Linked DNA regions of Homo sapiens. The protein of the gene in region 1 interacts with the protein of each later gene in a pairwise test. Each region holds a gene or a part of one and is shown in the gene's direction. Other genes may lie near its edges. The genes, in order: HDAC4, CDR2L, ASB15, MEF2B, MIF4GD, GRIPAP1 and HAP1.

Region 1 (3,500 bases):
TATGAATTTTACATTTTTCCTCACCATTTAGCAATTTTCTGAATGGTAATAATGTCTAAATCTTTTTCCTTTCTGAATTCTTGCTTGTACATTTTTTTTTACCTTTCAAAGGTTTTTAATTATTTTTGTTTTTATTTTTGTACGATGAGTTTTCTGCAGCGTACAGAATTGTTGCTGTCAGATTCTATTTTCAGAAAGTGAGAGGAGGGACCGTAGGTCTTTTCGGAGTGACACCAACGATTGTGTCTTTCCTGGTCTGTCCTAGGAGCTGTATAAAGAAGCCCAGGGGCTCTTTTTAACTTTCAACACTAGTAGTATTACGAGGGGTGGTGTGTTTTTCCCCTCCGTGGCAAGGGCAGGGAGGGTTGCTTAGGATGCCCGGCCACCCTGGGAGGCTTGCCAGATGCCGGGGGCAGTCAGCATTAATGAAACTCATGTTTAAACTTCTCTGACCACATCGTCAGGATAGAATTCTAACTTGAGTTTTCCAAAGACCTTTTGAGCATGTCAGCAATGCATGGGGCACACGTGGGGCTCTTTACCCACTTGGGTTTTTCCACTGCAGCCACGTGGCCAGCCCTGGATTTTGGAGCCTGTGGCTGCAAGGAACCCAGGGACCCTTGTTGCCTGGTGAACCTGCAGGGAGGGTATGATTGCCTGACCAGGACAGCCAGTCTTTACTCTTTTTCTCTTCAACAGTAACTGACAGTCACGTTTTACTGGTAACTTATTTTCCAGCACATGAAGCCACCAGTTTCATTCCAAAGTGTATATTGGGTTCAGACTTGGGGGCAGAAGTTCAGACACACCGTGCTCAGGAGGGACCCAGAGCCGAGTTTCGGAGTTTGGTAAAGTTTACAGGGTAGCTTCTGAAATTAACTCAAACTTTTGACCAAATGAGTGCAGATTCTTGGATTCACTTGGTCACTGGGCTGCTGATGGTCAGCTCTGAGACAGTGGTTTGAGAGCAGGCAGAACGGTCTTGGGACTTGTTTGACTTTCCCCTCCCTGGTGGCCACTCTTTGCTCTGAAGCCCAGATTGGCAAGAGGAGCTGGTCCATTCCCCATTCATGGCACAGAGCAGTGGCAGGGCCCAGCTAGCAGGCTCTTCTGGCCTCCTTGGCCTCATTCTCTGCATAGCCCTCTGGGGATCCTGCCACCTGCCCTCTTACCCCGCCGTGGCTTATGGGGAGGAATGCATCATCTCACTTTTTTTTTTTAAGCAGATGATGGGATAACATGGACTGCTCAGTGGCCAGGTTATCAGTGGGGGGACTTAATTCTAATCTCATTCAAATGGAGACGCCCTCTGCAAAGGCCTGGCAGGGGGAGGCACGTTTCATCTGTCAGCTCACTCCAGCTTCACAAATGTGCTGAGAGCATTACTGTGTAGCCTTTTCTTTGAAGACACACTCGGCTCTTCTCCACAGCAAGCGTCCAGGGCAGATGGCAGAGGATCTGCCTCGGCGTCTGCAGGCGGGACCACGTCAGGGAGGGTTCCTTCATGTGTTCTCCCTGTGGGTCCTTGGACCTTTAGCCTTTTTCTTCCTTTGCAAAGGCCTTGGGGGCACTGGCTGGGAGTCAGCAAGCGAGCACTTTATATCCCTTTGAGGGAAACCCTGATGACGCCACTGGGCCTCTTGGCGTCTGCCCTGCCCTCGCGGCTTCCCGCCGTGCCGCAGCGTGCCCACGTGCCCACGCCCCACCAGCAGGCGGCTGTCCCGGAGGCCGTGGCCCGCTGGGACTGGCCGCCCCTCCCCAGCGTCCCAGGGCTCTGGTTCTGGAGGGCCACTTTGTCAAGGTGTTTCAGTTTTTCTTTACTTCTTTTGAAAATCTGTTTGCAAGGGGAAGGACCATTTCGTAATGGTCTGACACAAAAGCAAGTTTGATTTTTGCAGCACTAGCAATGGACTTTGTTGTTTTTCTTTTTGATCAGAACATTCCTTCTTTACTGGTCACAGCCACGTGCTCATTCCATTCTTCTTTTTGTAGACTTTGGGCCCACGTGTTTTATGGGCATTGATACATATATAAATATATAGATATAAATATATATGAATATATTTTTTTAAGTTTCCTACACCTGGAGGTTGCATGGACTGTACGACCGGCATGACTTTATATTGTATACAGATTTTGCACGCCAAACTCGGCAGCTTTGGGGAAGAAGAAAAATGCCTTTCTGTTCCCCTCTCATGACATTTGCAGATACAAAAGATGGAAATTTTTCTGTAAAACAAAACCTTGAAGGAGAGGAGGGCGGGGAAGTTTGCGTCTTATTGAACTTATTCTTAAGAAATTGTACTTTTTATTGTAAGAAAAATAAAAAGGACTACTTAAACATTTGTCATATTAAGAAAAAAAGTTTATCTAGCACTTGTGACATACCAATAATAGAGTTTATTGTATTTATGTGGAAACAGTGTTTTAGGGAAACTACTCAGAATTCACAGTGAACTGCCTGTCTCTCTCGAGTTGATTTGGAGGAATTTTGTTTTGTTTTGTTTTGTTTGTTTCCTTTTATCTCCTTCCACGGGCCAGGCGAGCGCCGCCCGCCCTCACTGGCCTTGTGACGGTTTATTCTGATTGAGAACTGGGCGGACTCGAAAGAGTCCCCTTTTCCGCACAGCTGTGTTGACTTTTTAATTACTTTTAGGTGATGTATGGCTAAGATTTCACTTTAAGCAGTCGTGAACTGTGCGAGCACTGTGGTTTACAATTATACTTTGCATCGAAAGGAAACCATTTCTTCATTGTAACGAAGCTGAGCGTGTTCTTAGCTCGGCCTCACTTTGTCTCTGGCATTGATTAAAAGTCTGCTATTGAAAGAAAAAGAAAGCGAACAGTTTTTGTTTGTTTTTTTTGCCGTGTGTGCTCCATAGTGGAGGCGCTATTTTCCAATTGATGAGAATGACAAACATATATAATCTATCTATCTATCTATCTATCTATCTATCTATACAGGGGGCTTGAACCTTACTCACCCAAGAGCTTCTTACGGAATGTGGTAGAAAACCAAGTTGTAACGACACTGTAACCTACCTGATGCCTGTTCGCGCCCGCCGTGAGCTGCGCACTGGCCGTGGCCACCATTCACCTCTGTAATTTAATCCGTTTCTCTTGGATTGTCTGGACGTGCCCGATGGTTCTTTCTTTTGCTCAGTGGAGTTGGAGGTTTTGTGTTTGGTTTTCTCATTCTTGTCTTGTTTTGTGTGGGTGGATTTTCACCGACCAATGATATCCTCTTCTGACGGTCACCTTCTTTCCACTTCACTGGAGTCCAGTATTCTGTACCACATCACGCAACGTGTTATCTTGTGGTGTAAATAAAGACTGCGTTACTTGCCCTCCCAGCTCTGGTTTCTGCCCGTGCGCTCTCTTCCTCATTGGCTCTCGCATGTCTGGGACCCTGTGGGCCGAATGGCCAGTGCCCTGGGTCCCATCCGGATGGCTGCATGGGAATCACTGGACCCCATGGGGACGGCCCCTAGACCCAGACC
Region 2 (3,500 bases), on another chromosome or scaffold:
TAATACCAGCATTTTGAGGCCAAGGTAGGAGGGTCGCTTGAGGCCAGGAGTTCAATACTAGCCTGGGCAATATAACAAGACCCTGTCTCTACAAAAAAAATTTAAGAATTTTAGCCCAGGTGTGGTGGCTTATGCCTGTAATCCCAGCATTTTGGGAGGCCTGAGATCAGGAGTTCAAGACCAGCCTGGCCGACATGGTGAGACCCCCTCTCTACTAAAAATACAAAAAATTAGCCGGGCGTGGTAGTGGGTGCCTGTAATCCCGGCATAAAAAAGATTTTAGAAGTTAAAAAAAAAAAAAAAAAAGTACCGGGCACGGTGGCTCACGCCTGTAATCCCAGCACTTTGGGAGGCCGAGGCGGGTGGATCACGAGGTCAGGAGATTGAGACCATCCTGGCTAACACGGTGAAACCCCGTCTCTACTAAAAATAAAAAAAAATTAGCCAGGCATGGTGGCGGGCGCCTGTAGTCTCAGCTACCTGGGAGGCTGAGGCAGGAGAATGGTTAGCGTGAACCTGGGAGGCGGAGGTTGCAGTGAGCCAAGATCGCGCCACTGCACTCCAGCCTGAGCAAAAAGAGCAAAACTCCGTCTCAAAAAAAAAACATTGTACTATTCCTGTAGTCCCAGCAACCGATATTATAGTCCCACGCCTATTCACAGGCATGATCATATACACTGTAGCCTTGAGTTCCTGGGCTCAAGGGATCCTATCCCAGGCAGCCGTATTGCACCACCTTTCTTTTTTTTTTAATAGAGATGAGGTCTCACTATGTTGCCCTGGGAGGCTGAGGGAGGAAGATCGTTGAGCCCAGGAGTTCAAGGCTGCAGCACATATGATCACACCTGTGAATACTCACTGCACCCCAGCCTGGGTCCCATCCCTTAAAAGAAAAAAAAAACTGCCCCATGAGCTCACAGTTAGTTGGGGGAGCTGAAAAAGATAAAGGAGTAACTTGCTTGGGAAATTAGATGGTGCTAAGTGCTAAGGAGAAAGATGAAGCGGGGGAGAGACTGCAGGGCAGGGAACAGTGTGACTTTGAATCAAGTGATTGGGGAAAGATCTAGAGAAGTTGACAGGCACAGACTTGAAGGAGAAGAGGGAACAAGTCCTGGAAGTATCAGGAAAGAATATTCCGTGCGTGAGGCTGGCTTCTGGGTTGTCCACACCACTCTCTGCTGTGTTGACTTCCTGTTGTCTTCATCAAAGCTTTTTTCCGTGGTATTCTAAAATTAGGCCAGCAGTGGGGCTGGGAGGGCATCTGTGTTAGTCCCTTCCTGGCTGTGATCCGCCACACTCACTGTCAGTATTAAGGCCCAGCAGCCTGTTGATAAGCTACGCTGTCTCACCATGCGCTGGTGTGGAAACAGGGCCCAGCCAGCATGCCTCAAGGTAGATGGAATCCCCACTGGTCAGAGAAGAAGCCATGCGGACACTCCAGCTTGGCCTGGGCACAGCACTGACTCCTCACCCGCTAGTCTGGCTGTTAAGAGGAGAAGGTGCACTGCCTTCCAGCCTAGGAGGAGGACAGCATTTTGTATTTGTTCCACTGATGCAGCTTAGAACCACACCCCTGAGAATCGTGGCAAAACTTTCACAACCTGGAAAATGTTGAAAGCAACCATTCCTATTTTTGTTTGTTTTTTATTACATCTTGCACACACACACACACACACACACACACAGACACACACAAAAAGAACATTCCAGGCAGAAATAACAGTGCAAAGGCTTAGCTCCTGGCTTACCTCTCCTCCCAGGCCTGGAGGCTCCCAGTGTCTTGGTTACATTGGGGTCACCTAGAGTAGATGCTCGGAACATGAATGGGCGTCCTCTGCCTTTGTTCTCATGCTCGTGTTTCTCCTATCCTAGACTTGCACCTAGCTGCGGAGCTGGGGAAGACTCTGCTGGAGAGGAACAAGGAGCTGGAGGGGTCCCTGCAGCAGATGTACTCCACCAATGAGGAACAGGTGCAGGAGATCGAGGTGAGGGCCCTGCATGTGCTTGCCCACACCCCTCGAGGGCCCCTTGGCCTGTGTGTGCCTTTATGCAACTTAGAATAAGGTGCCAGCTTATCGGACACAGCCTTAGCCCAATAGCCTGGTACAGTTCACAACTGTGCTATCCTGTACAAGGATAGCACAGCTATCTCAGGCAGCCCTATTGCACAACTAGATTTTTTTTTTTTTTAAATAGACACCAAGTCTCACCATGTTGCCCAGGCTGGTCTCTAACTCCTGAGCTCAAGTGATCCTCCCACCTCAGCGTCCTAAAGTGCTAGGATTACAGGCATGAGCCACCAGGCCCAGCCTGAACCACCATTTTTAAGCCCCACTCAGCTGAAGACAAATACATCAAAGCAAACTTGTCCTTAGAAGGGGAGAAGGGGCTGCTGGCTCATGCTTGTAATCCCAGCACTTTGGGAGGCCAAGGTGGGTGAAATACTTGAGCCCAGGCAACATGGCGAAACCTTGTCTCTATAAAAAATACAAAAATTAGCTGGCTATGGTGGCATAAGCCTGTGGTCCCAGCTACTCAAGAGGATGAAGTGAGAGGATTGCTTGAGCCTGGAGGTTGAGGCTGCAGTGAGCCGTGATTGTGCCACTGCACTCCAGCCTAGGCAACAGAGCGAGACCCTGTCTTAAAAATAAATAAATAAAATAAATAAGATTTATTTCTTTTTTGAAATGGAGTCTCACTCTGTCACCCAGGCTGGAGTGCAGTGGCGCGATCTGGGCTCACTGCAGCTCTGCCTCCCGGGTTCACGCCATTCTCCTGCCTCAGCCTCCTGAGTAGCTGGGACTACAGGCGCCCACCACCGCACCCGGTTAATTTTTTTTGTATTTTTAGTAGAGACGAGGTTTCACTGTGTTAGCCAGGATGGTCTCCATCTCCTGACCTCGTGATCTGCCCGCCTCAGCCTCCCAAAGTGCTGAGATTACAGGTGTGAGCCATCACGCCGGGCATAAAAAAGATTTTAGAAGTTAAAAAAAAAAAAAAAGGCCGGGCACAGTGGCTCACACCTGTAATCCTAGCACTTTGAGAGGCCAAGGCGGGCAGATCACGAGGTCAGGAGATCGAGACCATCCTGGCTAACACGGTGAAACCCCATCTCTACTAAAAATGCAAAAAATTAGCCAGGCATGGTGGTGGGCACCAGTAGTCCCAGCTACTCAGGAGGCTGAGGCAGGAGAATGGTTGGCGTGAACCCAAGAGGTGGAGCTTGCAGTGAGCCGATGTCGCGCCACTGCACTCCAGCCTGGGCGAGAGAGCAAGACTCCGTCTCAAAAAAAATAAATTAATTAATTTAAAAAAAAAAGAGGCTGGCGTGGTGGTGCATGCCTATAATCCCAGCCCTTTGGGAGGCAGAGGTAGGCAGATCACTTGAGGTCAGGAGTTCAAGACCAACCTGGCCAATATAGTGAAACCCTGTCTCTACTAAAAATACCAAAATTAGCCAGGCATGGTGGCAGGCACCTATAGTTCCAGCTACTCAGGAG
Region 3 (3,500 bases), on another chromosome or scaffold:
TATAGTGTTTAAAATCTTGTATTCTGGAATTTAGTAGTACTTTTGAAGAGATCCAGTGTTTAAAAATTGTTGCTTTTGAGCTTTGAAAAAATAGACGTAGTACACTGAAATTTCTGGTCTGGAATTTCTCCCTTATCTCCAACAAGCTTTAGAACTTCAGAGCTTCCTGGAAGGCATTCACAACCCTGGTATGCTAGCAGATGTTTCTGCTTAACAGAGTTAAGTAAATTTGTTATGGAATTCCTTCTTTCCACTTAACAAACACACACACCAGAAAACCTCCATGAGGGTTTAAATCATGACCTGCTGGGCCAGTGATTGGGAGTTTGTTCAGTAAATGCCCTGCCTATTTTCACTTGTGGAACAGTTGATTTAAAACTCGCATATGTAGTTTAGACCATAAGCTCCCAAGTAAGTATCTTATTAGCAATTATTAAGTTCAAAGCAAAAAACATTTTTTGAGCATAGAGTGTTTAAAATTAGAAAAACCTAGAGATCTTTCTATTAATTCCATCATTTTGCAGATGAAGAACCCACATCCAGAAAGGCTAATTGGCCTCCCCAGAATCACAAAATCAGGCTGGGAATTGAACCTAGCTCCTCTGAATCTGACTCCAATTGTTTACTCCTTTTTTATTGCTTTGAGATATCTCAGAGATAGCATTGTAATCTTCTATTTTGCCATCTTCACTAATATTCTTAGATCAATGCATCATAAATATACTCTGTGTCTGACTCCCATACATTTACTTTTTAAGGAGATAAAATCAATTATATGCATCTCCTTTGGATCTTGATTATTAAAATTAAGTTTAAAAATGCAATATAAATTAAAATGTTTGGTTCCTTGAACTATATCACTAGTATCTAGTATAAATATTATTTTTCTTTATCTCATAGATTTGTACCCCTAAGTGCTCAAAACAGAAAACTTGTGGAGGCCATAAAACAAGGTAAATGGGTGTACTATCTACAGTGGGATGGACTGGAGATTCCACCTTGCAAAAACAGAGATTAGTCATCAGTCCATGTGTTTAATTTAGGTCACATTCCTGAGCTCCAGGAGTATGTAAAATATAAATATGCAATGGATGAAGCTGATGAAAAAGGATGGTTTCCATTGCATGAAGCTGTTGTTCAACCCATTCAACAAATACTTGAGATTGTTCTGGATGGTAAGAGAACATAAAACATGTTTGACCAAGCCAGAGCAAGAATGTTGATATGTTGATGTTATAAGTGTTTTCAGTGAACATAACTAGCAGAAAGAAAAGGCAGATTAAAATATTATTTGGAATTTGAAAAAGGCAGCACCCATGTTTTAAACTCAGAGTATAAAAATTAGGAATTTTTTTGACATTGGGGGTTTACCTTTTGCATCCTTTTACCTATGAATGAGACACAGGTTGGTGGAAAGATGTGGTTATCACATAAAAGTGATAAAAGTTTCTATATATCATGAATTAATTGAGTCATATATAACACTTTTCTTTTGGAAATCAATTTTAAATTTTTCATTTTGAACTATCTCTTGAGTTAACAGTTTCCAAAAGATTCTTATATAGTACAACAGGGAGTACTGACAATACTGGTCTTTACATTACATTGATTTTTTTCATAATGTAAGCATTAAAAAATATTATGGCAAATCAAGCCACTGTTAAATATTAACAGTAACTTTTATGTTCTAATACAGTGTTTTCACATCTCAGCATCTTACAGAACACTTTTGAGAGTGCCCTATCGTTCAGCTTCCACTGTTGCATGACAGCTCTATGTTCTGGGAGATACATACTTGATTATAAGCCAGCCATCTAGAAAACTAGACAGCCAGACAGACAGATATAGATGATGTTAAGGATCATTTTGACACAGCGATACCTACATTCAAGTACATTCTCCATTCCCACATTCACAGATTTCATTTCACAAAAAAACAATTTCAGTTACAATATAAATTATAATACAAAGGATTGAAACATTGTTTTGTAATGTATCAAGAAATGAGACTTAGCACATCATTTTCAAAAAAGCAGCTAGAAACAGATTTTTGGTTTTCTAGCTGTCAATTTGATTAGCAAGTCCATGTGCATCTACTTTATCCTCACCGTCATTTGGTAAACTTTTGTCAAAGTCCTTTCATTTTCATCAATTGACTTTGTTCAATCCGATGTATATAATATTGGATTGCTCTGATTTGTGTAATATCCTATAAGTGAGTATTTTCAACTTTTCAACATAATGCTTTCATGTCACAGCATCCTATAAGACACTCTGGGAATTCAAGACCTGTGATGGAGAAACACCCTTGACTTTGGCAGTCAAAGCTGGTCTGGTGGAAAATGTAAGAACTTTATTAGAAAAGGGAGTGTGGCCCAACACAAAAAATGATAAAGGAGAGACCCCCCTTCTGATTGGTAAATGACCTTTTTTTCTAGAACTTTTATAGTTTGAAACAAAGAATAAGTATTTATTGGAAACCACTGTATAATGGCTAAAATTGTGATCTCAGTTCCTTCCATTCCCTGAGCTACTTGCCTAACCCCCATGTCTTCTGTCCTGTGATTTTGTTTTCCTATCCCACAAGGATGTCAAATATGAAAGATGGCTACATCCTTCAGTATCCAGTTGTAGAGACTGCAACTAACCAGGAGGGATCTGAATTAGTTTTTTGAAGCCAGAGATAGCAATTTTAAAGGAATATTCTCTAGGTAGGATCCAGTTGTAAGGAGGGTTGCATGTGCCATATGTAGCCAGAAGCAAGAGGTGGAAAGGGATTCCAAAGGGAGACATCAAGTTCACATCAGACTGATCAGGCGAACCTGGAAGGAAGGGAGGCCAGCAGATTCTGAGCACACAGATGCAGAGCATGGCACCTATGAGGGGTACACTGTGACACGAGGGAAGAATGGGAAATCTGAAGGTGACATTTACCAGCTCTGTCTTGTATATCCCGCTATTTGCTGAACAATAAGAATTGGCAAGTCTGTTTGTGAAAGCAGAGAGTGATAAGATTAACTCCAAATGACCCAGAGATAACATTTCCTTTCTCTTAGGGACACAGGGTGGTGGAGTAAGAATGTGGTGTTGGCACGTGAGATCACTGGGTTTAAATCTTAGCTGTGAATTGCAATCATGGGCCTCAGTTTTCTCAAGTATAAAATGGAAATACAACACCTACCATGCAGAATTGTGAGGAAAATTAGAGAAAAAATATATAAAAGCTCTCACATTAATAGATGTTCAAGAGGGAAGAGCCATTATGAAGTTGTCTGTGTGGCGGGAGGAGGAGACGGAAGAGGAGCAGGAGCAGGAGGAGAGGGAGGAAAGGATGTAAGATTATTTACCAGCAATCACAGAGAAAGACGTTAAAGGTCATAACTAGTTAAGAACCATCACAGCTCCTGTTCACAGAGGAATCACTTAAAAAAAAATTTTAAACAACCTTAATATTAAGAAAACCTGAATATTGTTAAGCAAACTTGGATAAATCATGAACA
Region 4 (4,154 bases), on another chromosome or scaffold:
GTAATCTCAGCACCTTGGGAGGCCGAGGAGGAAGGATCTCTTAAGCCCAGGAGTTTGGGACCAGCCTGGGCAACATAGTGAGACATCCTCTCTTAAAAAAAACAAAATTAGCTGGACCTGGTGGTGGCCTGCCTGTAGTCCCAGCTGCTGGGGAGGCTAAGTTGGGAGGATTGCTTGAGCCTAGGAGGTCGAGGCTGCAGTGAGCTATGATCATGCCACTGCACTCCAGCCTGGGCAACACAGTGAGATCCTGCCTTGAAGAAAAAAACAAGAAAAACCTTTCTCCTAGTGGCAAACTCCTACACATACTTGAAAGCCCAGCACAAATGCCCTCTCTTCTGAGAAACCCTCCCTGACTCCTCTGGCACAGCCCTTGCCCCAATTCTGGCCTGTCCCAGCCTCCCATCCCTCCTCTGGCCCAAGCCTGACCCCACAGGGTTAGGGGAGTGCATGGATCCCCTGCCTGCCCCAGACGGGCCGGGGGCTTCTCCAGAAGTGCCCATCCCAGAGCCATCTTTATCCTGTAATTCTTTTCACATTGATACATTCACCAACCCCTGCTCTGATCTTCCTGTGGGTCTGGCCTGTGCTGGGATCCCAGGGGAAGGGGTGGATTTAGAGTTCTGGGCTGGGGTCCAATCCTGGAAGGCCCCTCACAGCTGACCTTTGAAGTTTAGAAAACAGCCTTTAGCGGGGAGAGGTAAGGAGAGGGAAGTGGTTGGTGGAAGCAGTGTGGTTGTCTTGGACTGTGGAGGGGCAGGCGGTGCGGGCTTGAGGGACCAGTAGCTGCGGAGGGTCTGTCACTCCCTGTGGGAGCACATATCTGGCCCCAGGAGGCACAGTTGAGTGAGGCCACACAGGCCACCCGAGAGCCCCGTCTTGCAGTCTTTCCATTCTAGCGAGCGCGAGGGTCAGCGTTGCCTGCGAGAAGGGCTTGGTTCCTCGGGGCGACGGGGTCCGGGATCGGAGTCTATTTCACTCAGGATGGAATCAATCCAGGCAAGTTGGGCCGAGTTAGGAAAAGGTTTAGAATTAGGGTTAGGGTCACAGTAGGGTCAGGGGTCGGCAGTAAGGTCAAGGGCGCCCAGTGAGGGCGGGGAAAGCCTGGCCAGTCTGATCCAGCCCCCTCCCTCCGTTCTGCTTCTTCCTTATCCGCGCCCCCACCCATGGCGCCCCAGCATCCTTTCGCGTCTGAGTCCCAGGCCCATGAACTCCCGGGTCGGGGCCACGCCCAAGTGCACGCCCATCGCCGCCTCCAGGGTGACGCCCTGTATGCAAATAAGCCCGTCCCGCCCAATCAGCTCCCGGGGGCAGGACCGCCCGCTCCCAAGGCACCTGCGGCCGCGGGCCCCTGATCTTCGTGCAGCCGCCGCGGGTCCGTGCGCCCAGCGTCCCAGGGCCCAGGCCGAGCAGGTGCGTGTCATATCGGGTTGAGACTCCTGTGGTGTCCTCTGAACGGCTTCTGCGGGCTGGGTGGGTTTTGGAGGTCCGGGTGTACTGCTGGGCGTCCCAGGGTGGGGTGTGTGTCTAAAGGGGTGTGTGTCGTGGGGTGGTGAGTCCCCGAGGTTGTGGCAGGAGGGGGTTGTGTCTCCAAGGGGTGTGTGTCTGAAGGGTGTGGGTCTGGAAGTTGTGTGTCCAAGGGCTCTGCGTCTGAGATTTGGTGTGAGTTGGGGAGTTGGAGAGTTAGCTGTGTGTCCAAAATCATGGTGCTGTGAGGCCCTATTATGTGTCTGTGAGCTCTGTGATGTGGCATGTGATGTCCCTCTCTCCTGGTGTGCACTCCTTTAGCATTAGCGCATCCCCTGTGCACAACCCTATGCCTTCTTGCTGTGGGTGTACACTCGTTTGTCACAGCAGGATGGTAGGCACAAAACCTTGGAACGGGGGAGCAACAGCTGCCGGGGCCAACTCTCCTCCCTTTGCCTCAATGGGTACAGGAACAAGAGTCACATCCCCGTGTGGTTGTTAGCACATGACAAGGTGGTGGCAGCATTACTTTCACGGTCACAGTCCTCCCTCCCTATCTCTTTTGGGGTCCAGGGCTGCAGATATGGGTGACCTGTGTCCTTGGCCACCCTAACCCCTAGTTGCAGACCCAATTAGTCAGAAATAGCTGGCCGGGCACTGTGGCTCATGCCTGTAATCCCAGCACTTTGGAGGCTGAGGCAGGAGGATCACTTGAGCCCAGTAGTTTGAGACCAGCCTGGGCAACATAGTGAGACCCCCATTTTCTTTTTCTTTTCTTTTCTTTCTTTGTTTTTTTTTTGAGACAGGGTCTCATCCTGTCGCCCAGGCTGGAGTACAGTGGTGATCTTTGTTCACTGCAACCTCCAGCTCCCAGGCTCAAACAATTCTCCTCCCTCAGCCTTCTAAGTAGCTGGGATTACAGGCGCGTGCCACTACCGCCTGGCTAGTTTTTGTATTTTTAGTAGAGATGGGCTTTCACCATGTTGGCCAGGCTGGTCTTGAACTCCAGACCTCAAATGATTCACCTGCCTCAACCTCCCAAAGTGCTGGGATTACAGGCGTGAGCCCCTGCACCTGGCTTTAAAAAAAAATTTTTTTTGAGACAGAGTCTCACTCTGTCACCCAGGCTGGAGCGCAGTGGCTCAATCTTGGCTCACTGCAACCTCTGCCTCCCAGGTTCAAGTGATTGATTTTCTGCCTCAGCCTCCCGAGTATCTGGGACTACAAGCGTGTGCCACCATGACCAGCTAATTTTTGCATTTTTTGTAGAGACGTTGTTTCACCATGTTTGCCAGGCTGGTCTCATGTGATCTGCCTGCCTCAGCCTCCCAAAGTGCTAGGATTACAAGAGTAAGCCACCGCATCTGGCCAAAAAAAATTGTTTTTTTAATTAGGCAGGTGTGGTGGCTTATGTGTATAGTCCCAGCTACTCGGGAGGCTGAGGCAGGAGGATCACTTGATCCGAGGAGTTCGAGTCTGCAGTGAGCTATGACTGAGCTACTGCACTGCAGCCTGGGTGACAGAGCAAGATCCTGTCTCTAAAAGAAAAACAAAAAGAAAGAAAAGAAACAAAAAAATGGCCAGGCGCGGTGGCTCACACCTGTAATCCAAGCACTTTGGGAGGCTGAGGCGGGCGGATCACCTGAGGTCAGGAGTTCGAGACCAGCCTGACCAACATGGAGAAACCCCATCTCTACTAAAAATACAAAATTAGCCGGCCATGATGGTACATGCTTGTAATCCCAGCGACTCAGGAGGCTGAGGCAGGAGAATCGCTTGAACCCAGGAGGCGGAGGTTGTGGTGAGCGAAGATCGTGTCATTGCACTCCAGCCTGGGCAACAAGAGTGAAACTCCATCTCAAAAAAAAAAAAAAAAAAAAAAGAAGAAAGAAACAAAACAATAATCAAGGCCTCAGGCTAGCCTGGCCAAGAATCATCCCTGGGGAAGGGCAGGGCCCCTGGACCTTGGGCATTCGGGACAAGAACTCTCAGACTCTTGGAGTGAAGGAAACTGGATACAAAAAAGTATTTCGACTTCGGAGAACCAGTGTGTGAGGACTGATTTCCAGAGATGAAAAGGGCTTTCTAAAAAGGCAGGCTTGTTCCCTCATGTCCCCTTCCTGTTGTTCAGTAAAGGGGGAAGCTTGGCCTCCAGCAAACAGAATTTCAGGACAGTTAGGATCTTGGGATGTCATCTTAGAGAGCAGGAAGCTGGTTTGCAGGAGGGAAGGCTGAGGCCAGGTAGTAACACTAGGCCCCTCAAAAAAGGATGGAGCTCAAGGCCATGCCTCAGTCCCCCAAGAGAACAGAGGCTGGGGTCACGAGGCCCAGCTTCCTCTCCCTCCTCTCTGTGTGACCCCCCAACAGGTGGCTGCCCCTCTCTGAACTTTGTGGCAGCTCCTGTGAGCGGAGCAAGCTGAACCCACTCTTGGCTTTCCCATCCCAACGAATGATTTATTTGGTTAAACTATGACCCAACCAGGTGGACATCTGGAAAATGCAAATTAAGAAGAGAAGGGGAATTTAAAACATTTGCTCACCCCAACTTGGGTGCAGTGAGTGTAGACATGTTGGGTGTTTGGCCTTCTGGAAGAGGTTTCTTTCTTTCTTTCTTTCTTTCTTTGTTTTTGAGACAGCATCTTGCTCTGTTGCCCAGGCTAGAGTAAAGTGGTGTGATCTCAGCTCAC
Region 5 (2,504 bases), on another chromosome or scaffold:
AGCAGCAGCTCTAGACTCCCCTCCTATCTCTACCCCTAGATCCGGGTGCTGTGGACTTGGAGAAAGTGGCCAATGTGATTGTGGACCATTCTCTGCAGGACTGTGTGTTCAGCAAGGAAGCAGGACGCATGTGCTACGCCATCATTCAGGTTGGGGGTTGGGAGAGGAAAGGAAGCTGCTTTGAGGAAGGTGCTTCAGGAGTGGGCAGAAGGCCTGGCCTGCAGGACAGAGATGCACAGGGTCTAGCTCAAAGAGAGAGAGAGGCATAGGATGGGTGGGGTTACAGGGGCACCGCCCCCCACCCTTCACCTTCCTCTCCCTGGCTCACAGGCAGAGAGTAAACAAGCAGGCCAGAGTGTCTTCCGACGTGGACTCCTCAACCGGCTGCAGCAGGAGTACCAGGCTCGGGAGCAGCTGCGAGCACGCTCCCTGCAGGGCTGGGTCTGCTATGTCACCTTTATCTGCAACATCTTTGACTACCTGAGGGTGAGGCCCCGGCAGCCACCCTGGGAGGCAGACATGGCCTGTTTCCTGAGGCCCAGGTTGGACTGCTCCCCTTGGCCACTAAGCCTGGTGCTCTGACCCCTCCTCTTCCTCACAGGTGAACAACATGCCCATGATGGCCCTGGTGAACCCTGTCTATGACTGCCTCTTCCGGCTGGCCCAGCCAGACAGTTTGAGCAAGGAGGAGGAGGTGGGTGGCCCCAGCCCTGGCACAAGCACAGAAGGCTGCAGGATGGACAGTCCAGCTCAGCCGTGTGTCAGCCCACTGCTCACGGAGGTCTCTGAGGACTGTGTCACTTCTGGGGCAGGACTGTGGGGGTGTTTAAGGCCTGTCAGTTATAGGACAAGCTGCCAGGTCTGGAGTTTATCCAATAGAGAGCAGCCAAAACCTACTGGCTCAGTAGCTTCCTTCTCAGTCAGAAAGCCAACGTATGATGGCAGCTGTGCAAGCCATGGCTAGCTGTGGGTACAGACGGCCCCAAAGCCAAACCAGGGTCAGGCAGTGTGTGGGAGGCAGGAGAGTGGGATGAAGAAGTGGTTTGGAGACAGGCTTGAGTGGAGCCTGGCCAGATGAGGGACCTCAGGCAAGTCCCGGAACTCATTTCTTTCTGTGTAAGATGTGGAAGTACCCACTGGATGGTAAGGAGGGAGCAAGGGAATGAGTGTAAAGGCAAAGCACAGCACCTGGCACTTGGCAAATGCTGTGTGAGAGGCTGGCACTGCCCCAGTTCACTTGTGTTACCCACACTGTCGCCTGCAGGTGGACTGTTTGGTGCTGCAGCTGCACCGGGTTGGGGAGCAGCTGGAGAAAATGAATGGGCAGCGCATGGATGAGCTCTTTGTGCTGATCCGGGATGGCTTCCTGCTCCCAACTGGCCTCAGCTCCCTGGCCCAGCTGCTGCTGCTGGAGATCATTGAGTTCCGGGCGGCCGGCTGGAAGACAACGCCAGCTGCCCACAAGTATTACTACAGCGAAGTCTCCGACTAGGCCTCCAGATCAGGGCTTCCTCACCAGCACTGGCCTTTCTTCTACCCACCTCTAAAGCTGGCAGTGGAGTCTCTGCCTCACCCAAAGACTTTTCCCTTCCAGACTTTGAGTGTCTTCCCTTCTAGACTTTCCCATCTCCTGGTGAGATGTTTCCCACTTATGCCGTGGTCCTGCCCTGAGCCCCTTTCCCCACCACAACCCACCACGGCCAGGCAGAGAAGGGCAACTCCCAAGAGCCACTGCACTGTGTAACCATTAGTGCAACTACTACCTTGGTGCCTCAGTTTACCCATCTGTAAAATGGGTAAGCATAGCCACTGGTGGGATATTTTGGGATGTCAAGGGGTGGAGGCAGAGCACAAGTCACACCAGAAACTGCTTTTTATACATTTTGTATAAGGACAACTCTGGAAACAAGCCTATTTCCTCCAGCCAGTTTCACTGAATGCTGCACCACATGCTACACCAGTTCAGCGTGAGAATTTTCTAATAAATCTTTTCTGATACTAAAACTGCTTCCTTTATATATCCAAAGGTCCGCCCCAACCTAAGGGAAGAGAAAACAGCCCTGAGTTTCCTGGAGGAAATTCCCAAGTCAATGTGCTCCCTCTTTACAAGGAAATAGGGGCAGAGAGAGCAAGTTCCAGCCTCAAAGAAAGAAGGATTAACGGATAGTGAATATGCTGCTACATCTTTCTTACGAGGCCTGCCCACCCTTACAAAGGAACTACATCCTTAACCCACAGGTAGTTTTCAGCGTGGCAGTAGCTCACACTGTTTCTTGCGGCAGAGGGCCCTGGGCTCCTCCTGGAGACTCTACCACCAGCGGTAGTGGGCCAGGGCACGGTTGGCCTCTGCCATCTTGTGCAAGTCATGCTTCCTCTTGATCACGGGGCCCTGGTTATGGAAAGCCTCCAGCAGCTTGTGTGACAGCTTCTCCGGCATCAGTGTCCGCTGGTGCTTTTTATCCCGGCACTCAGTGATCATCCACTTCATGGCTAGGAAGCGGCGA
Region 6 (3,500 bases), on another chromosome or scaffold:
CAGAGTGACAGGTGAAGGGGTCAGTCTGAGAGTTCACCAGGACCTGGAAACTAGGAGGTTGTGAGTTTGAGACCTCTAGGATCTGGGACTATGAGTTTGGGTGGATCTCACCTGGGAAGTAGGGACGTGGGAGATGAGTGTGTCTGAAACCCCTGGTGGTTGGGATTGGGAGGCTGGGTGAAACTGTCATCCTTGGGTGCTGACTACATCTGAGATCCATGGGGCTGACTGTGTCTGAGAATCCTGGAGCTCCCAAGCTAGAATCTGGGTGAGCATGAGACTTCTTATGGATGGGAGCTGAGTGAGTTTGAACCGCGTAGCAGCTAGGGCCAGGAGTCTAGTCGTGCCTGAGATCTTGTACGCTGGGATAGAGGGGTTGACTGTGTCTGAGGCCCCTGAGGGTAGTGACCTGGCGTCTGGGTGAACCTGAGATTGCTGTTGGCTGGATAGTCTGAGACCCACAGGTGCTGAGAACATGCTGCTGGGTGGTCAAACAGAGAGTCTGTACGGTTATATGCACCCCAGGAGAGGCTGAGGTGTAAAATGGGCTCCCCTGGTCTCCACAGAGCTTGGCAGAGCTGAGAGATCAGCGGCAGGGGGAGCGCCTGGAACATGCAGCAGCTTTGCGGGCCCTACAAGATCAGGTATATTGTACTGCGTGGGCTCAGGGAGCTGGGGTTCAGGATGGGGGCAGCCTGAGTGGGTACTACATAGTCAGGCAAGGTCCCAGGGATCCTGCTTCCCCCAGGCCTTCGTGTGTGTGTGTGTGTGTGTGTGTGTGTGTGTGTGTGTGTGTGTGTGTGTGTGTGTCCTTTCTTTCTTGGTCGTGGGTAGGTCCTGTCCCCCTGTTCTGGACCCACTCTCACCTGCTGTGGACGTGGGGCCAGGTATCCATCCAGAGTGCAGATGCACAGGAACAAGTGGAAGGGCTTTTGGCTGAGAACAATGCCTTGAGGACTAGCCTGGCTGCCCTGGAGCAGGTAAAGAACACCTGGGGGCCCTTGCTGATCCCTCTCCAGTTCCCCCATCTCCATCTGCTTCTGGTCCACATCAGGGTAGGGTGGTCTGGACCCCATGCTGTTCTCCTGTCTTTGTTTCTGTTGCTCCTTTCTGTTGGCGTCCAGCCCTCTTCTCTCTGGCCATCCATCCCTACTTTTTTTTTTTTTTAACTTTTAAAAATTTTATTGGGGAGGCTGAGGCAGGAGAATTGCTTGAACCAGGACCCAGGAGGCAGAGGTTTCAGTGAGCCGAGATCGCACCACTGTACTCCAGCCTGGGCGACAGAGCAATACTCTGTCTCAAAAAAAAAAAAAAAAAAAAAAGGGCGTGGTGGCTCATGCCTGTAATCCTAGCACTTTGGGAGGCCAAAGATGTGTGGATGGCCTGAGCTCAGTTCAAGACCAGCCTGGGCAACACGGTGAAACCCCATCTCTACTAAAATACAAAAAATTAGCTGGGTGTGGCGGTGTGTGCCTGTAATCCCAGCTACTCGGGAGGCTGAGACAGGAGAATCTCTTGAACCCAGGAGGCGGAGGTTGCAGTAAGCCGAGATCGTGCCATTGCACTCCAGCCTGGGCAACAGAGCGAGACTCCGTCTAAAAAAAAAAAAAAAAAAAAAGCCGGGCATGGTGGCTCAATTCTGTAATCCTAGCACTTTGGGAGGCCGAGGAGGGCGGATCACCTGAGGTCAGGAGTTCGAGACCAGCCTGACCAACATAGAGAAACCCCGTCTCTACTAAAAATACAAAATTAGCTGGGTGTGGTGGTGGGCACCTGTAATCCAAGCTACTCGGGAGGCTGAGGTGGGAGAATTGCTTGAGCCCAGGAGGTGGAGTGTGCGGTGAGCCGAGATCGTGCCATTGCACTCAAGCCTGGGCAACAAGAGTGAAACTCTGTCTCAAAAAAACAAAAAACAAAACGAAAAAAAACTTATTGGCCGGGCATGATGGCTCACACCTGTAATCCCAGCACTTTGGGAGGCAGAGGTGGGCGGATCACCTGACATCAGGAGTTTGAGACCAGCCTAGCCAACATGGCAAAACCTTGTCTCTACTAAAAATACAAAAATTAGGCCAGGCGCAGTGGCTCACGCCTATAATCCCAGCACTTTGGAAGGCTGAGACGGGCGGATCACCTGGGGTTCGGAGTTCGAGACCAGCCTGGCCAATATGGTGAAACCCCGTCTCTACTAAAAATACAAAAAAAAATAGCTGGGCATGGTGGCGCACACCTGTAATCCCAGCTACTCGGGAGGCTGAGGCAGGAGAATTGCTTGAACCTGGGAGGTGGAGGTTATAGTGAGCCGAGATTGTGCCACTGCACCCCAGCCTGGGTGACAGAGTGAGACTCCATCTCAAAAAAGAGAAAACAAAATTATTTTGTAGAGACAGGGTCTCACTATGTTACCCAGACTGGCTTAAACTTCTGGCCTCAAGCTATCTTCCCACCTCGGCCTTCCAAAGTGCTGGGATTATAGGTGTGAGCCACTGTGCTTGGCCTATCTCTGCTTTTTTTTTTTTTTGTAGACGGAGTTTCGGTCTTGTTGTCCAGGCTGGAGTGCTATGGCACGATCTCGGCTCACTGCAACCTCCGCCTCCCAGGTTCAAGCGATTCTCCTGCCTCAGCCCTCCCAAATAGCTGGGACTACAGCCGTGTGCCACCATGCCCAGCTAATTTTTGTATTTTTAGTAGAGACGGGGTTTCACCATCTTGGCCAGGCTGGTCTCGAACTCCTGACCTCATGATCCACCCGCCTCGGCCTCCCAGAGTGCTGGGATTACAGGCATGAGCCACCGCGCCCGGCTTCTGCTTTTCTTTGTTTCTAGTTTCTCTCTAGTAAAGTGCATGAAATGTACTAATCTTAAGTGTACACTCAGTGAATCCTCTCTTCGTCTCTCTCTTTTTTTTCTCTCTCTCTCCCCGCCACCATAGCCACCACCCAGATCAAAGTATAAAGCACTTTTAGTACCCCAGAAGGTCCCCTTTACCCCTTCAAAGTCAGTACTCCCCCAGAAGTAACCATTATTCTGATCTCTAGCAACATAAGATTCATTTCGCTTGTTCTTTAACTTCATATAAATGGAATCAGCTGCTCTTTGTCTCTGACTTCTTTCTGGCAGCACTATGTAAGTTTATCCACGTGGCAGCACAGATCTGTTCTCTTACTGTTGTGTGGTATTCCATTGTATGAACATACCACATTTACCCATTCTCTTCATTGTTTTTCTGTTTGAAATTTCCTCTCTCTTCCTGGTTCTCTTCCCACCTCCCTCCCTGTTTCCCTGGAACTAGGGGGCTCATACCCTGTCCCTGGCCCCTGGGGTCCCTTTCACTCTACTTCTCATCACCACTACTTTCTCCAGATCCAAACAGCAAAGACCCAAGAACTGAATATGCTCCGGGAACAGACCACTGGGCTGGCAGCTGAGTTGCAGCAGCAGCAGGCTGAGTACGAGGACCTTATGGGACAGAAAGATGACCTCAACTCCCAGCTCCAGGTA
Region 7 (4,131 bases), on another chromosome or scaffold:
CATGAAACATTTTCTTTACTTTCTAGGACCCAACTTTCCTGGTTTTCCTCTACTTCACTGCCCCACTCATCCCAGTCTTCCTTTGATGCCTCCTCTTCTTCTTTCTGCCCTCTGAATCCTAGGGGGTTAGTCCTGGGCGCTCTTACCTGTCTTCTCTCAGTCTCTTGGGGATCTCACCAGTCTCATAGCTTTAAATGGTCATCAAAGAACAATGACTCCTACATTTAAATCTCCAGCCCGGTCTCTCCCCTACATTCAGATTTATACATCTAATTGTCTACCCAACATTTCCAGTAGGATACTTAAAAAAAAAGTATTCTATTTATTTATTTATTTTGAGGGGTAGGCTCGCTCTGTAGCCCCAGCTGGAGTGCATTGGCACAATTTCGGTTCACTGCAACCTCTACCTTCCAGGTTCAAGCAATTCTCCTGCCTCAGCCTCTTGAGTAGCTGGGACTACAGGCACACGCCACCATGCTTGGCTAATTTTTGTATTTTTAGTAGAGACAGGGTTTCACCAGGTGGCCAGGCTTGTCTGGAACTCCTGACCTCAGGTGATTCGCCTGCCCCGGCCTCCCAAAGTGCTGGGATTACAGGCGTGAGCCACTGCGCCCGGCTACAGGGAGACTTTTAAGAGGCGTCTCCCAAGGAGAACAGGGGTTCGCCAGCATGGCAAGAGGAGGGCAAAGCGAACTAGGGTTGGAGGTGAAGAACAGTTAATCCAATCAAATGGAAGACGTCGAGTGGCGCGAGCACTGGGGTGTGAGCGCGAGGGTCAGGGTTGCAGCGCCAGGCAGGGTTGCAGCGCCAGGCAGGGTTGCAGCGCCAGGCAGGGTTGCAGCGCCAGGCAGGGTTGCAGCACGTTGGAAGCGCACTGGAGTTTGGAATGTCTCTCCCAGTCAACCGGGAAAGACGCAGCGCTGCCCTAATGCACTGGCCACCCCAGACCGTATGCACAACGTTGGGTTGGCAGCTTCTACACCAGGGAAGGCACCCGAAACCCCGGCGCGGCAGCTGGGGAGGGGCTGCCCCCAGCCAGGGACCCGCGAGTGCTGGGGCAGCCGCGGCTTTGGGCAGAACCATTCTCCGGAGATGGAGAGGGCAGAAAAAATCTTTCGCTCCCATCCCAACTCGGAGCCATCCGGAACTTGCACTCGCCCTTCTTGCCCTGCTTTTCTTACTGTGCTCTGTTCCGTCACCACTAGCTCCCCTCCCGCGCGGCTCTGAGTCCCGCTTGCCACTAGTTGCTTCTCGGCAGCCCCCACCCCTACGCGTGGTCCGGCCCGGCGGCTGGCGCAGGTTATAAAGGTCCCGCCGCAGCAGCGGACGGCAGACTCGAGATGCGCCCGAAGAGGTTGGGCCGGTGCTGCGCGGGGAGCCGGCTCGGACCCGGGGACCCAGCAGCACTCACCTGTGCACCTTCGCCCTCAGCCAGTCCCGCTCCGGAGCCCTCTGCGCAGCCGCAGGCACGGGGCACTGGACAGAGAGTAGGATCCCGAGCCACCTCTGGATCCCAGTTCCTCTCGGAAGCCCGCACCGGAGCTCGCCCGGCCTCGGAGGCTGGAGCCAAGGCAGGAGCCCGGCGCCCGTCCGCATTCTCGGCCATCCAAGGGGATGTCCGGTCTATGCCCGACAATTCGGACGCGCCGTGGACCCGCTTCGTATTCCAAGGGCCGTTTGGTTCCCGGGCCACTGGCCGGGGGACTGGAAAGGCAGCGGGCATCTGGAAGACGCCAGCCGCCTACGTTGGCCGGCGACCCGGGGTGTCCGGCCCTGAGCGCGCCGCCTTTATTCGGGAGCTGGAGGAAGGTAAATCGGGCCCCCGGGGTCCTGGACCGGGTGGGGACTGGGGCAACTCCAGGGAGGAAGTGGCCCCATCGGGTCCAGGCACCCCGCCCCCTCTAGCACTCAGTGTCACCCGTCCACCACCCCCGCGATGTCACTGCGGTGTCTGTCTGGTCGCCCCTTCTCCATCTCCTCCTCTGCTCTTGTCCCCTGGTTTGTGCCCGTGAGTCAGGTTCTGGGGCCTGCACGCTCGCCCACCCACCTCCACGCGCCTCTTGCTGCGGCAGATCTGCACCCCTTCAGCGCCCCTCTCCTGGGTCTACCGCAGTGCCAGGAGAGGGGCGGGGGGCTGCGGGAGGGCGCTGTCCCGCGCGCTCTGAGTCTGCGCTGGCCGACCGGGCTTGCGTGCGATGGAGGGGTGGGTGGGCGGGCGGAGGGGGAAGTTTTGCCCACTTTTTGGTTGCGGGTATGGGGGCAAAGTCGCGCTCTTTTCCTGCCCCTTGTCTCTCCTATCCTCCTGCGGGTCGGGGGAGATCTCTGGATTGGGCCTAGAGGCTCGAGTGTCTCCTAATCTGGTGAAGTCTTCCTCCTGTCCTCTGCACACGCAACAGGTGCAGGGTGAGTGGCTGCGTCTGTTTGTATGACCCAGGAGACTCCATTGCACTGCCTCCTGGGTAGGGGGTGATGAGCCAGTCTGAGGCTGTACTTCCCCTGGCTGTCTCCATTCTAGGCGCCAGGGACCCAGGTGTCCGGAGAGCCCAGTTTCTGAGCCTGGAGGACTGTGACCCCCTTACCTCAGGCTCCTCCAGGGGTAAAAAAAAAAAAAAAAAAAAAAAAGCCGGGCGCGGTGGCTGACGCCTGTAATCCCAGCCAGCACTTTGGCAGGCCGAGGCGGGCGGATCACTAGGTCAGGAGTTCGAGACCAGCCTGGCCAACATGGTGAAACCCCGTCTCTACTAAAAATACAAAAATAAGCTGGGCGTGGTGGCGGGCGTGTATAACCCCAGCTACTCGGGAGGTTGAGGCAGGAGAATTGCTTGAATCTGGGAGGCAGACGTTGCAGTGAGCTGAGATCTCGCCATCGCACTCCAGCCTGGAGGACAAGAGCAAGGCTTTGTCTAAAAAAAAAAAAAAACCAAAAAAAAAAAAAACCAAAAAAAACCCAAAAACCTAAAAACCCTGTCCACTTGGCCCTGGGAGCAGGGAAGGGAGTGTTGAGTGCCGAGGGGTAAGGGGAGGATGTGGGGGGCAGGAGGGGAGCCCAGTCTTCTCTCCCGATGACCCTTGTTGGAGAACTGACGATAGGACGGGAAACAGCTGTTTGCTGGTAGCATCTGCTCCTTTTTCCTGACCTGGCTGGGCCTTTTCTCCCCACCTGCCGCCTCCTGCAGCACTGTGTCCTAACCTACCTCCGCCAGTCAAAAAGATCACCCAGGAAGACGTCAAAGTGATGTTATATTTGCTGGAGGAGGTGTGTACTGCCTTCCTGATCCAGGCAAGCCCTTATTCTAGTTTTGTCCTGTAGGGGTGGGGGTCTTGTTTATTTCCTGATTGGCAGTCTCTCTGGGGCCCCAGGTTAGGGTCCTTCTTATGGAAGACAGGTCGATGTGGGATGTTCAGGCTGGAAGAGCTCTCAGAGCCAATCTGGTCTGATCTTCTTTTTCCATGAGGGGAAACTGAGCCAGGTTCCACAGTGGGTTAATGGCAGACTCTGGTCTGGTACCCTAGAGAACTAGGGGATGGGGAAGGTTCTCTTAGGGGCCTAGCCTCTCTCTGACCCCTGTGTCCCCCCCAGCTTCTCCCACCTGTCTGGGAGAGCGTTACCTATGGGATGGTCCTGCAGAGAGAGAGGGACCTGAACACTGCAGCTCGCATCGGCCAGTCCCTGGTGAAACAGAACAGTGTTTTGATGGAGGAGAACAGCAAGCTGGAAGCCCTGCTGGGCTCAGCCAAGGAGGAGGTAACCGGGTGGGGAGGAGAGGATAGCGGGCCAATCTACACCTGCCTCATGCCAGGACCCTCTCCTGTCCCTGCCCACTCCCAACCCATGGCTCCTCTCTCTTCCTGCCAGATTTTATACCTCAGACACCAGGTGAACTTGCGGGATGAGCTCCTCCAGCTCTACTCAGATTCTGATGAGGAGGATGAGGATGAAGAAGAGGAGGAGGAAGAAAAGGAGGCAGAAGAGGAACAGGAAGAAGAAGAAGCAGAGGAAGACCTGCAGTGTGCTCATCCCTGTGATGCCCCTAAGCTGTGAGTTCCTGCCTTTGCACCTGCAAGTCCTTTCTCTGAGCCTCAATTTCCTCATTTGTTAAGAGGGACACAGGTGATGTGCTTGCTGGCAGG

What was found.
Region 2: the proteins of HDAC4 (region 1) and CDR2L interact in binary tests that used the Homo sapiens proteins (3 or more experiments, as listed by UniProt).
Region 3: the proteins of HDAC4 (region 1) and ASB15 interact in binary tests that used the Homo sapiens proteins (3 or more experiments, as listed by UniProt).
Region 4: the proteins of HDAC4 (region 1) and MEF2B interact in binary tests that used the Homo sapiens proteins (3 or more experiments, as listed by UniProt).
Region 5: the proteins of HDAC4 (region 1) and MIF4GD interact in binary tests that used the Homo sapiens proteins (3 or more experiments, as listed by UniProt).
Region 6: the proteins of HDAC4 (region 1) and GRIPAP1 interact in binary tests that used the Homo sapiens proteins (3 or more experiments, as listed by UniProt).
Region 7: the proteins of HDAC4 (region 1) and HAP1 interact in binary tests that used the Homo sapiens proteins (3 or more experiments, as listed by UniProt).

The regions. Positions count from the first base shown.
Region 1 is NC_000002.12:239,048,021-239,051,520, reverse strand, and holds the end of HDAC4 (histone deacetylase 4), read left to right. Parts: 3' UTR 1-3,353; downstream 3,354-3,500. UniProt on the Homo sapiens protein: Responsible for the deacetylation of lysine residues on the N-terminal part of the core histones (H2A, H2B, H3 and H4).
Region 2 is NC_000017.11:74,997,632-75,001,131, forward strand, and holds part of CDR2L (cerebellar degeneration-related protein 2-like), read left to right. Parts: intron 1-1,872; coding exon 1,873-1,985; intron 1,986-3,500.
Region 3 is NC_000007.14:123,615,321-123,618,820, forward strand, and holds part of ASB15 (ankyrin repeat and SOCS box protein 15), read left to right. Parts: exon of another isoform or gene 1-80; intron 81-900; coding exon 901-953; intron 954-1,043; coding exon 1,044-1,175; intron 1,176-2,257; exon of another isoform or gene 2,258-2,258; coding exon 2,259-2,417; intron 2,418-3,500.
Region 4 is NC_000019.10:19,167,464-19,171,617, reverse strand, and holds the start of MEF2B (myocyte-specific enhancer factor 2B), read left to right. Parts: upstream 1-1,354; 5' UTR 1,355-1,413; intron 1,414-4,154. UniProt on the Homo sapiens protein: Transcriptional activator which binds specifically to the MEF2 element, 5'-YTA[AT](4)TAR-3', found in numerous muscle-specific genes. Activates transcription via this element. May be involved in muscle-specific and/or growth factor-related transcription.
Region 5 is NC_000017.11:75,265,728-75,268,231, reverse strand, and holds the end of MIF4GD (MIF4G domain-containing protein), read left to right. Parts: intron 1-39; coding exon 40-149; intron 150-330; coding exon 331-486; intron 487-601; coding exon 602-694; coding exon of another isoform or gene 695-781; intron 782-1,264; coding exon 1,265-1,492; 3' UTR 1,493-2,004; downstream 2,005-2,504. Other genes in the region: MRPS7 (small ribosomal subunit protein uS7m), read right to left, coding at 2,309-2,504. UniProt on the Homo sapiens protein: Functions in replication-dependent translation of histone mRNAs which differ from other eukaryotic mRNAs in that they do not end with a poly-A tail but a stem-loop. May participate in circularizing those mRNAs specifically enhancing their translation.
Region 6 is NC_000023.11:48,985,265-48,988,764, reverse strand, and holds part of GRIPAP1 (GRIP1-associated protein 1), read left to right. Parts: intron 1-566; coding exon 567-644; intron 645-887; coding exon 888-980; intron 981-3,362; coding exon 3,363-3,497; intron 3,498-3,500. UniProt on the Homo sapiens protein: Regulates the endosomal recycling back to the neuronal plasma membrane, possibly by connecting early and late recycling endosomal domains and promoting segregation of recycling endosomes from early endosomal membranes.
Region 7 is NC_000017.11:41,731,844-41,735,974, reverse strand, and holds the start of HAP1 (huntingtin-associated protein 1), read left to right. Parts: upstream 1-1,331; 5' UTR 1,332-1,340; coding exon 1,341-1,809; intron 1,810-3,176; coding exon 3,177-3,256; coding exon of another isoform or gene 3,257-3,280; intron 3,281-3,580; coding exon 3,581-3,745; intron 3,746-3,856; coding exon 3,857-4,038; intron 4,039-4,131. UniProt on the Homo sapiens protein: Originally identified as neuronal protein that specifically associates with HTT/huntingtin and the binding is enhanced by an expanded polyglutamine repeat within HTT possibly affecting HAP1 interaction properties.